Regions from separate parts of the Homo sapiens genome. Here region 1 is linked to region 2. The links come from fine-mapping of genetic effects on gene expression. Tissue or cell type: whole blood. Region 2 holds a variant in brackets; the other region holds the start of a gene. All regions are shown on one strand. Distances are between the middles of the regions.

What was found. PIP is the estimated chance that this variant, and not a neighbour inherited with it, causes the effect. A credible set is the group of variants that fine-mapping cannot tell apart.
Region 1: it holds the start of CD27, and the variant in region 2 is the best candidate, but not a certain one, in a credible set for the expression of CD27 in whole blood (INTERVAL, PIP 0.72).

What each region holds. Positions count from the first base shown.
Region 1 is chr12:6,442,921-6,447,056 of GRCh38, reverse strand. It overlaps CD27 (CD27 molecule), which reads right to left and starts at 2,102. Exons shown (of 6, transcript NM_001242.5): 1 at 1,826-2,102; 2 at 1,502-1,633. The coding sequence starts at 1,961. It overlaps CD27-AS1 (CD27 antisense RNA 1), which reads left to right. Exons shown (of 6, transcript NR_015382.2): 4 at 1-96; 5 at 3,340-3,511. RefSeq lists enhancers at 822-941, 1,651-1,830, 1,861-1,920, 1,465-1,966, 2,871-2,920 and 1 more and a silencer at 4,001-4,080.
Region 2 is chr12:6,543,747-6,548,012 of GRCh38, reverse strand. All of the region lies in intron 8 of IFFO1 (intermediate filament family orphan 1), which reads left to right. Among named protein-coding and RNA genes, the nearest start is that of IFFO1, 10 kb to the left of the region's middle. The variant C/TTC (reference allele first, on the strand shown) is at 2,315.

The DNA.
Region 1 (4,136 bases), 100 kb after region 2:
TGGAGTGCAGTGGTACAGTCACGGCTCACTGCAGCCTCCACTTCCTGGACTCAAGTGATCTTCTCACTTCAGCCTTCTGAGTAGCTGGGACTACAGGTTCGTGCCACCACGCCTGGCTAACTTTTTGTATTTTTAGTAGAGACAGGGTTTTGCCATGTTGCCCAGGGTGTTCTTAAACTCCTGGGCTCAAGGGATCCGCCTGCCTTGGCCTCCTAAAGTGCTGGGATTACAAGTGTGAGCCACTGCTCTGGCTTTTTGTGTGTGTGTGTGTGTGTGTGTGAAAAAGGGTTTTGCTCTGTTACCCAGGCTGGAGTGCAGTGATGTGAGCAGCCTGGACCTCTTGGGGACCTCTTGGGCTCAAGTGATCTTCCCATCTCAGCCTCCCAAGTAGCTGGGACTGCAGGTGCACTACCATGACCAGCCAATTTTTTTAGAGACAAGGTCTCACTATGTTGCCCAGCTGGTCTCAAGCTCCTGGGCTCAAGTCTCTACAAAATATGCAAATACCCTTCTGCCTTGGCCTCCCAAGTGCTGGGATTATAGGCATGAGCCACCACATCTGGTGTTGGTTTTTGTTTTTGTTTTTACGGGACCAGGCACTACAGCTCACACCTGTAATCCTGGCACTTTCAGAGGCTGAGACTAGAAGATTGCTTGAGCCCAGGAGTTCAAGGCTGTGGGGAGCTATGATTGCACCACTGCACTCCAGCCTGGGTGACAGAGCTAGACCTTGTCTCTAAACTAAACAAAACAAAACCCAGTACCAAGAGACCCAGTGACACCAAACACGTTTTGCAAGTAGGTAGTTTAATAGTTACAGTTACCTGGTTCTAAAAAGTGTCTTGCTAGAGAACATTTGTTCAAAGGGGCCACTTTAAAGCCTGCTATTCTAGTGTATACTGGCCGTAGTTTCTGAAATTGTAGCGAAGATGGAGAAATAATAACAGCATTCATAAGCACAACTGCAGATATTATACTTCTTAGTTTAAAAAAAACCTTTTTTTTTGGAACTATAAAATAAAAACACAGGCTACATACATACTCATTTTCTCAAATTGGCTTTTGTGCAAAAAAAGGTTGTTACCTATTGGGTTGCTTTGTTATTTCCTTAGAAAGATGTATTCCAAATTCCCAATGGCCAACCTGCACATGTGCACTCTGGGAACACAGTCAGTTTATTGGTTGGGGGTTGCTTGCCCGAAATCTGGGGTCATAGAGCCACTTCTCTCATTTTATTGTCTTGATCCTATCCATAGACCCGTTCTCACCAATCCCTCAAATTCTATTTATCCCTTTCCTGGAATACTAGATGTCTGCCCACGTTAATTCATGCCCCACCTAGGGTGCCGCATTTCCCAGCATTGGCTCCACTTGCTGTGAGCCTTGAAGAAGGCCAAAGCTTTGGCCCCGTCATCCTCCTTGCACCCCCAAACCCGTCACCAGCCTTGCTCCCCCAGATGCTTGTCCATCGTCCCCACCTACACACCCTTGCCCACCTCACCAGAGTTACAGTGCCGACAGCTCTCACAGTGGGGCCGGGTGTGGTGGTCAGGAGAGAAGGAGACCCCCGGTATGCAAGGATCACACTGAGCAGCCTTTCTATGCTGGTCACAGTCCTTCACGAGGAATGTTCCTGGGAGGAGAGGGTAAGGGATCAAGGCCTGAGAAGGGCTGGTTCTCTGCCCTCTTCAAGGTGGTGCCTCCCCACAGCTGCAGGATTTCCCTCCTTGCTTGAGCTCAGTCTCACCCTGCGCCTATTTACTGTATTAACCCCAGTCCTCTCTCTTTCGCCACTCACCTGGCCCTTACCAAGGCCCCCTCTTACCTGGCTCACACATCTGGCAGCACAGCTTTCCCTGAGCCCAGTAGTGCCTCTCTGGGCAGCTCTTGGGGGCTGGAGTAGCTGAGAGCCCCACCAGGGTCCCCAGAACGCACAGCCACCAGGGATGTGGCCGTGCCATGGTCCCTGCCCAGGCGGCTCCTTTCTGTGCCCAGTTGCTGATGCTGGCCTCTGGAGTTAGCACCTCCAAGCTGGGCGCTGCTGTCTCTTCTTTGCACCCCCTGGGCAGTGGCTGCTTCAGGTGGCAAGCCAACCTTTGAAGGCAGAATCTCTATTGTGGCTGTTTTTTTTTTCTCTCTCATAGCAGCAACCTCCACCCCCTTCCCCTTCCGTGTGCTGGGGAGAGTATTAAAGAGCAAACTCTGTGAGACCTGCTGCTCTTCAAACATGCTTCCTCCAACACATGAGCCTTCCTTAGTTTCCGCCTCTCCTGCTCATGAAGCACGTAGCCCACTGACTCCTGCTTCTTTGACAAAAAGGTGATGGACACACAGTTGCTCACCCCTCCTATTCATGCACTTGTGCACAAAGGTGCCCACGTTACCCCCCCCCACCCACCCCCCCGTCCACAGTTTACAGACGAATTCGCAGGACTCCTGTCTCCCATACCTGCATCCCTCCTTTCACAGACAACAGTTGAAAGAAGGAAGGAGAACCAGAATTGAGCACAGGTCCACAAGCTCTTATCTGAAACTTTGGGGGTCAGATAAGTTTTGGAATTCAGAATTTTTCAGGTTTATACAGAAACCAGCACCACAAAACACCCTTGGGGAGTTGGGGTAGTCTCATAATCAAACGCAACATTTCTGCAGCAAAACTATTGAATATTTACACCAACTGGGAGGAAGCTTAAATAGCCTTGTCTCAATTGAGGTCTGGTTTGATGGCCAAACGAGTTTGCTACAGAATGCTCAGAATTGCAAGCAAGGGGTGTAGAGCTGCCTCTCTTCTGTCACACTCTGACCGATCACCTATGCTCTCCTTTAATCCTCATGTCAGTCTCTGATGTGGGTGCCACCTACTGCCCACATGGCCTTCCCTCTCAGACCCTTGCTCACTCCTCACTTTTGTGCCATCTTTATCCTCCCCTTTCCCACCTCTGGCTGTGTCAGTCACTGGTGTCCTGGATCGCCTGGAGCATCTTCTCTCCTAGCCTTGGGCACTTGGGATTAAAGGTAGCTTCCTACGGGGGTCATCTCTTTTTTATTTTCCCAGTTCTCCCAGCAAGACTGATTTCGGGATATTGGAAACAGCTAGACTTTTCCCTCTTTGAGTCATGGGGACACACACGGGTCAACAGCCTCCTCCACTCTTTCCTCAGCAACCGATATGTGGAGTGGCTTATTTCCCCAGGAAGTTTTTAATTTAGGGGCTTTGCCGTTGTTTCCACACTGTTCATAAATGTCACACTGCTGTGGTCACACCTGTCAGATCTGTTCTCTATCTCACTCTGTAGTTTCCTTTCTCCTCATTTTCTCCATTCTCTTGTCTTTTCCCAGCCCCCTCTGCAGCTCTTCATGGGGGTCCACTCAAGTCAGAAGCCACATTTGGGTGTGATTCAGAGAGCTGTTTATGCAAAACCAGCTTTGTCACCATCAGGCAAGGCACCTGAATTCCCACCGCAGAGAGTGTTGTGGCCGTGAGGACTTTTCTGTCACCAGCCATTTCCAGGTTGTGGTAAATGTGTTCACTGCAGGCATGGGGCAGTGGGGTGGCTAGCTGACTGCAGGCCCTGGGAGGGTGGATGAGACCCTCAGAAGAATCATGAGGAACTGGGGACCTTTAGGAAGAAACTTGTCGAACAGGGACTTGCAGTTCGCTGAGCCTAGCAACCTTGAACCGACTGGGAACTGCTCACTAGCCTAACGCTGCTGTCCTCTGGGCCAAAGCCCATCTCCTCTTTTCTACATATCACTTCTCCAGGGGGTCAGAGCAGGAGCAGGGTCTGCCTGGCTTTCCTGGAGGGCCTCGGCCAAGAGGAGGAAGGCCAGGTTTCTGGACGTTTTTCTTTCCTAGGCAAATAGAATGAGCTCATCTCCAGCACTCTTTGCATCCACTTCTGGTGAGCCTTCCCCATCCTAGGCTGGCTCCCTGGACGGGACCTTCCTTTTTTTTTTTTTTCCTCCCTCCATTTCACTCTGTCACCCAGGCTAGAGTGCAATGATGCAATCTCAGCTCACTGCAACCTCTGTCTCCCAGGCTCAAGCCATTCTCACGCCTCAGCCTCCTGAGTAACTGGGATGACAGGTGCGTGCCACCACGCTCAGCTAATTTTTGTATTTTTAGTAGAGATGGA
Region 2 (4,266 bases):
GGGCTGCAGGCGCAGTGGCCTCATCCCTGCTGCAGGACCCTAGAGACCAAGGTCTTGGGAGGAGGAGTGATCTCTCAGCTATAGTCCTCCTGGTGGGCTCTGAAGACCTCAGGCTCTGGAAACAGACAGATATCGGTTCAAATCTCAGCTCTGTTACTTACAACCACCCTGAACTTGTAATAAGTTACTTGTTCCCTCTGAGCCCCTCCTTTCCTTTCCTTTCCTTTCCTTTCTTTCCTTCCTTCCTTCCTTCCTTTCTCTCTCTCTCTCTCTTCCCCTCCCCCTCTATCCCTCCCTCCCTCTCTCCCTTGTCTTTCTGTCCTTTCTTTTTTGAGACAAGGTCTCACTCTGTTTCACTCTGTTGCCTAGGCTGGAGTGATCCTCCCACCCCAGCCTTCTGAGTAGCTGGGCCCACAGGTGTGTGCCACCATACCCAGCTAATTTTTATTTGTATTTTTTTGTAGAGATGGTGTCTCCCTGTGTTTCCCAGGCAGGTCTTAAACTCTTGGGCTTAAGTGATCCTCCTGCCTCGGCCTCCCAAAGTACTAGAATTAGAGACATGAGCCATGTGTCCAGCCCTACACCTGTTTCTTTTTCTTTCTTTCTTTCTTTCTTTCTTTTTTTGAGACAGGGTCTTGCTCTGTCACTCCAGGCCCACTGCAGCCGTGATCTTCTGGATCCAAGCAATCCTCCTACCTCAGCCTCCCAAGTAGCTGGGACCACAGGCGTGTGCTACCACGCCCGGCTAATTTTTTGATTTTTTTTACAGAGAACAGGGTGTCACTATGTTTTCCAGGCTGCCCTCAAACTTCTGGATTCAAGCAGTCCTCCTAACTCGGCCCCACAAAGTGTTGGGATTACAGGCATGAGCCACTGTGCCGGGCCTTTTTATTTGTAAAATGAGGAATTTAATAATACCTCACCTATAGGGTTGTTTAGAAGATCAGATGAAATAATGCATATATAGAGCTTAGGGCAGTGTCTGGCTCATAGCGAGTGTAGCATAGTGGGGACTGTTTTATTATTATTAACACTATCAGTGCCATGGCACTCAGAGATGGACTGGGACTTTCCTGTTTCTTCCACTCAGCCTTTGAGATAACAGAGAAATCTCCATGCTTTTTCCCAAGCCTTGAAGTACCTTCTAGAGGTACCTAGAGGCAAGTGGAGCTGGTGCTTTAGCTCAAACTCTAGGCTTTAGGAGCTGCAAGAAGGATTTGTGGAGGCCGGGCGCGGTGGCTCACGCCTGTAATCCCAGCACTTTGGGAGGCCGAGGCGGGAAGATCACGAGGTCAGGAGATCGAGACCATCCTGGCTAACACGGTGAAACCCCGTCTCTACGAAAAATACAAAAAAAAAAAATTAGCTGGCCGTGGTGGCAGGCACCTGTAGTCCCAGCTACTCGGGAGGCTGAGGCAGGAGAATGGCGTGAACCCGGGAGGCGGAGCTTGCAGTGAGCCGAGATCGCACCACTGCACTCCAGCCTGGGCGACAGAGCAAGACTCCGTCTCAAAAATACAAACAAAGGAAGAAGGATTTGTGGAACCACAGAATGGAGGTTGCTGTTGCTGTGGGAGGAGGGATGGACGGGACCCCCGTGAGCTCTCCTGGCCTGGTGAGGTGGTCCTTTCCCGACGCTCTGACTTTGGGAGAGGCATGGAGCCTTCTCTGCGTCTCAGCCTCTCTTCAGGCCCACATGGGAGATTCATACGTAGTCCCCCCTTATCTTCAGGGCATGTGTTCCAAGACCCACAGTGGATGCCTGAAACCAAAGATAGCACTGACCTCCTGATAGCTTGGGTCCAGTTGCTGTCAACTGGAACGTGTTTCTGTTCATGTCTCCCACCCACACATTCAATGCCTTTTCTATCTTAACTAAGCACTTAGCGTGCGCTGTGGCGGTACCTTTTGCAGTTCGAGGTGTGACAGCAAAACTGGCACAAATTTCTTTTTCCTTCTTTACAATTTCACGGATAGAAGATTCATTCTTACTGTAGAGCTTACCAACCTCAGCATCGGATTCTTTTTCTTATTAAGTTGAAAACTTTTACCTTTTCACTTAAAGGGAGCATATTTTGGCTTCTCTTTCACATATCCAAATTGCCAGCATCACTACTCTTGTGCTTTGGGGCCATTATGAAGTAAAAATAAGGGTTCCTTGAACACGGGCACTGCCATACCACGACAGTCAATCTCATCACTGAGATGGCTCCTAAGTAACTAATGGGCAGGCAGTATAGACAGTGTGGATCCTTGGGACAGAGGGAGGGTTCATGTCCTGGTCTGGATAGAGTGAGGTTTTTTTTTTTTTTTC[C/TTC]GAGACGGAGTCTCGCTGTGTCACCCAGGCTGGAGTGCAGTGGCTTGAACTCGGCTCACTGCAAGCTCCACCTCCTGGGTTCACGCCATTCTCCTGCCTCAGCCTCCTGAGTAGCTGGGACTACAGGCGCCCGCCATCACGCCCGGCTAATTTCTTTTGTATTTTTTAGTAGAGATGGGGTTTCACCGTGTTAGCCAGGATGATCTCGATCTCCTGACCTCATGATCCGCCCACCTCGGCCTCCCAAAGTGCTGGGATTATAGGCGTGAGCCACCGCGCCCGGCAGAGAGAGTGAGATTTTATCAGGCCACTCAGAACAGCGTGCAATTTAAAACTTAGGAATTGTTTATTTCTGGAATATTTCATTTAATATTTTCAGATCAAGGTTCACCTTGGGTACCTGAAGCCGTGGAAAGTGAAACCAGTGGATAAGGAGAGAGTGACTTTATTCTTTTCATTTATTTATTTATTTATTTATTTTTTTGAGACGTAGTCTCGCTGTGTCGCCCAGGCTGGAGTGCAGTGGCGCGATCTCAGCTCACTGCAAGCTCCACCTCCCAGGTTCACGCCATTCTCCTGCCTCAGCCTCCAGAGTAGCTGGGACTACAGGCGCCTGCCACTACGCCCGGCTAATTTTTTGTATTTTTTAGTAGAGACGGGGTTTCACCATGTTAGCCAGGATGGTCTCGATCTCCTGACCTCGTGATCCACCCGCCTCGGCCTTCCAAAGTGCTGGGATTACAGGCGTGAGCCACCGCGCCCGGCCTTGACTTTATTCTTATTGCTGTCACATTGGAGGTGTTTGAGAAGGAAGTCGAGAAATTATTTTCCTATATACTCATTCTCCCAACACACATCAAACTGTCCTGCTCCTGCATCAAACCTGGTTTTCTTGGCCAGGTAGATGAGGTTTCCTGGATTTGTGCTGCTAGCTAAAGACATGGCAAGGGAAACCAGTACTCCCCACCCTCCCGTCTACCGCGGCTCACTGTTTCCTCCTCCTGCCTGACCTGATTCTTGTCTCCCTCTTTTGGATGGTGGATTTAAGGTTTGTGTTTTCACTGTGCCTTCAACCAACTAGGGGCCTTTGTGCGGCCATCTTCGTGAGAAGAGATCTCGGGCTGCCATCTCTCCCTAGTCTTCCCTGGACCTCAAGTGCCCAGTGTAAAACATGATCTGAAAGAACGAAAATAATATCTTAAATGGAATCATGCCTTTTAAGCTATTTTTGGCTGGGCGTGGTGGCTCTCGCCTGTAATCCCAGCACTTTGGGAGGCCAACGCGGGCAGATCACTTGAGGTCAGGAGTGTGAGACCAGCCTGGCCACCAACATGTGAAACCCCGTCTCTACTAAAAATACAAAAAGTAGCCAGGCATTGTGGTGGGCACCTGTAATCCCAGCTACTTGGGAGGCTGAGGCAGGAGAATTGCTGGAATCTGGGAGGTGGAGGCTGCAGTGAGCTGAGATTGTGCCACTGCACCACAGCCTGGGTGACAGAGCAAGATTCCATCTCAGGAAAAAAAAAAAAAAAAGTATTTTCAAATCATCTGACTCCTCCTCTCTCCCAGTGCAATGACTTTAGGCAGCAGTCCCCAACCTTTTTGGTACCAGGGACTGGTTTGTGGAAGACAGTTTTTCCACTGACCCGGGGGAAATGATTTTGAGATGATTCAAACATTACATTTATTGTGTACTTTATTACTATTTTTAAAAATTATTATTATTATTTTTAGAGACAGAGTTTTGCTCTTGTTGCCCAGGCTGGAGTGCAATGGCGCAATCTTGGCTCACTGCAGCCTCCGCCTCCCGGGCTCAAGCAATTCTCCTGCCTCAGCCTCCCAAGTAGCTGGGATTACGGGCATGTGCCACCACGCCTGGCTAATTTTGTATTTTTAGTAGAGATGGGGTTTCTCCATGTTGGTCAAGCTGGTCTCGAACTCCCGACCTCAGG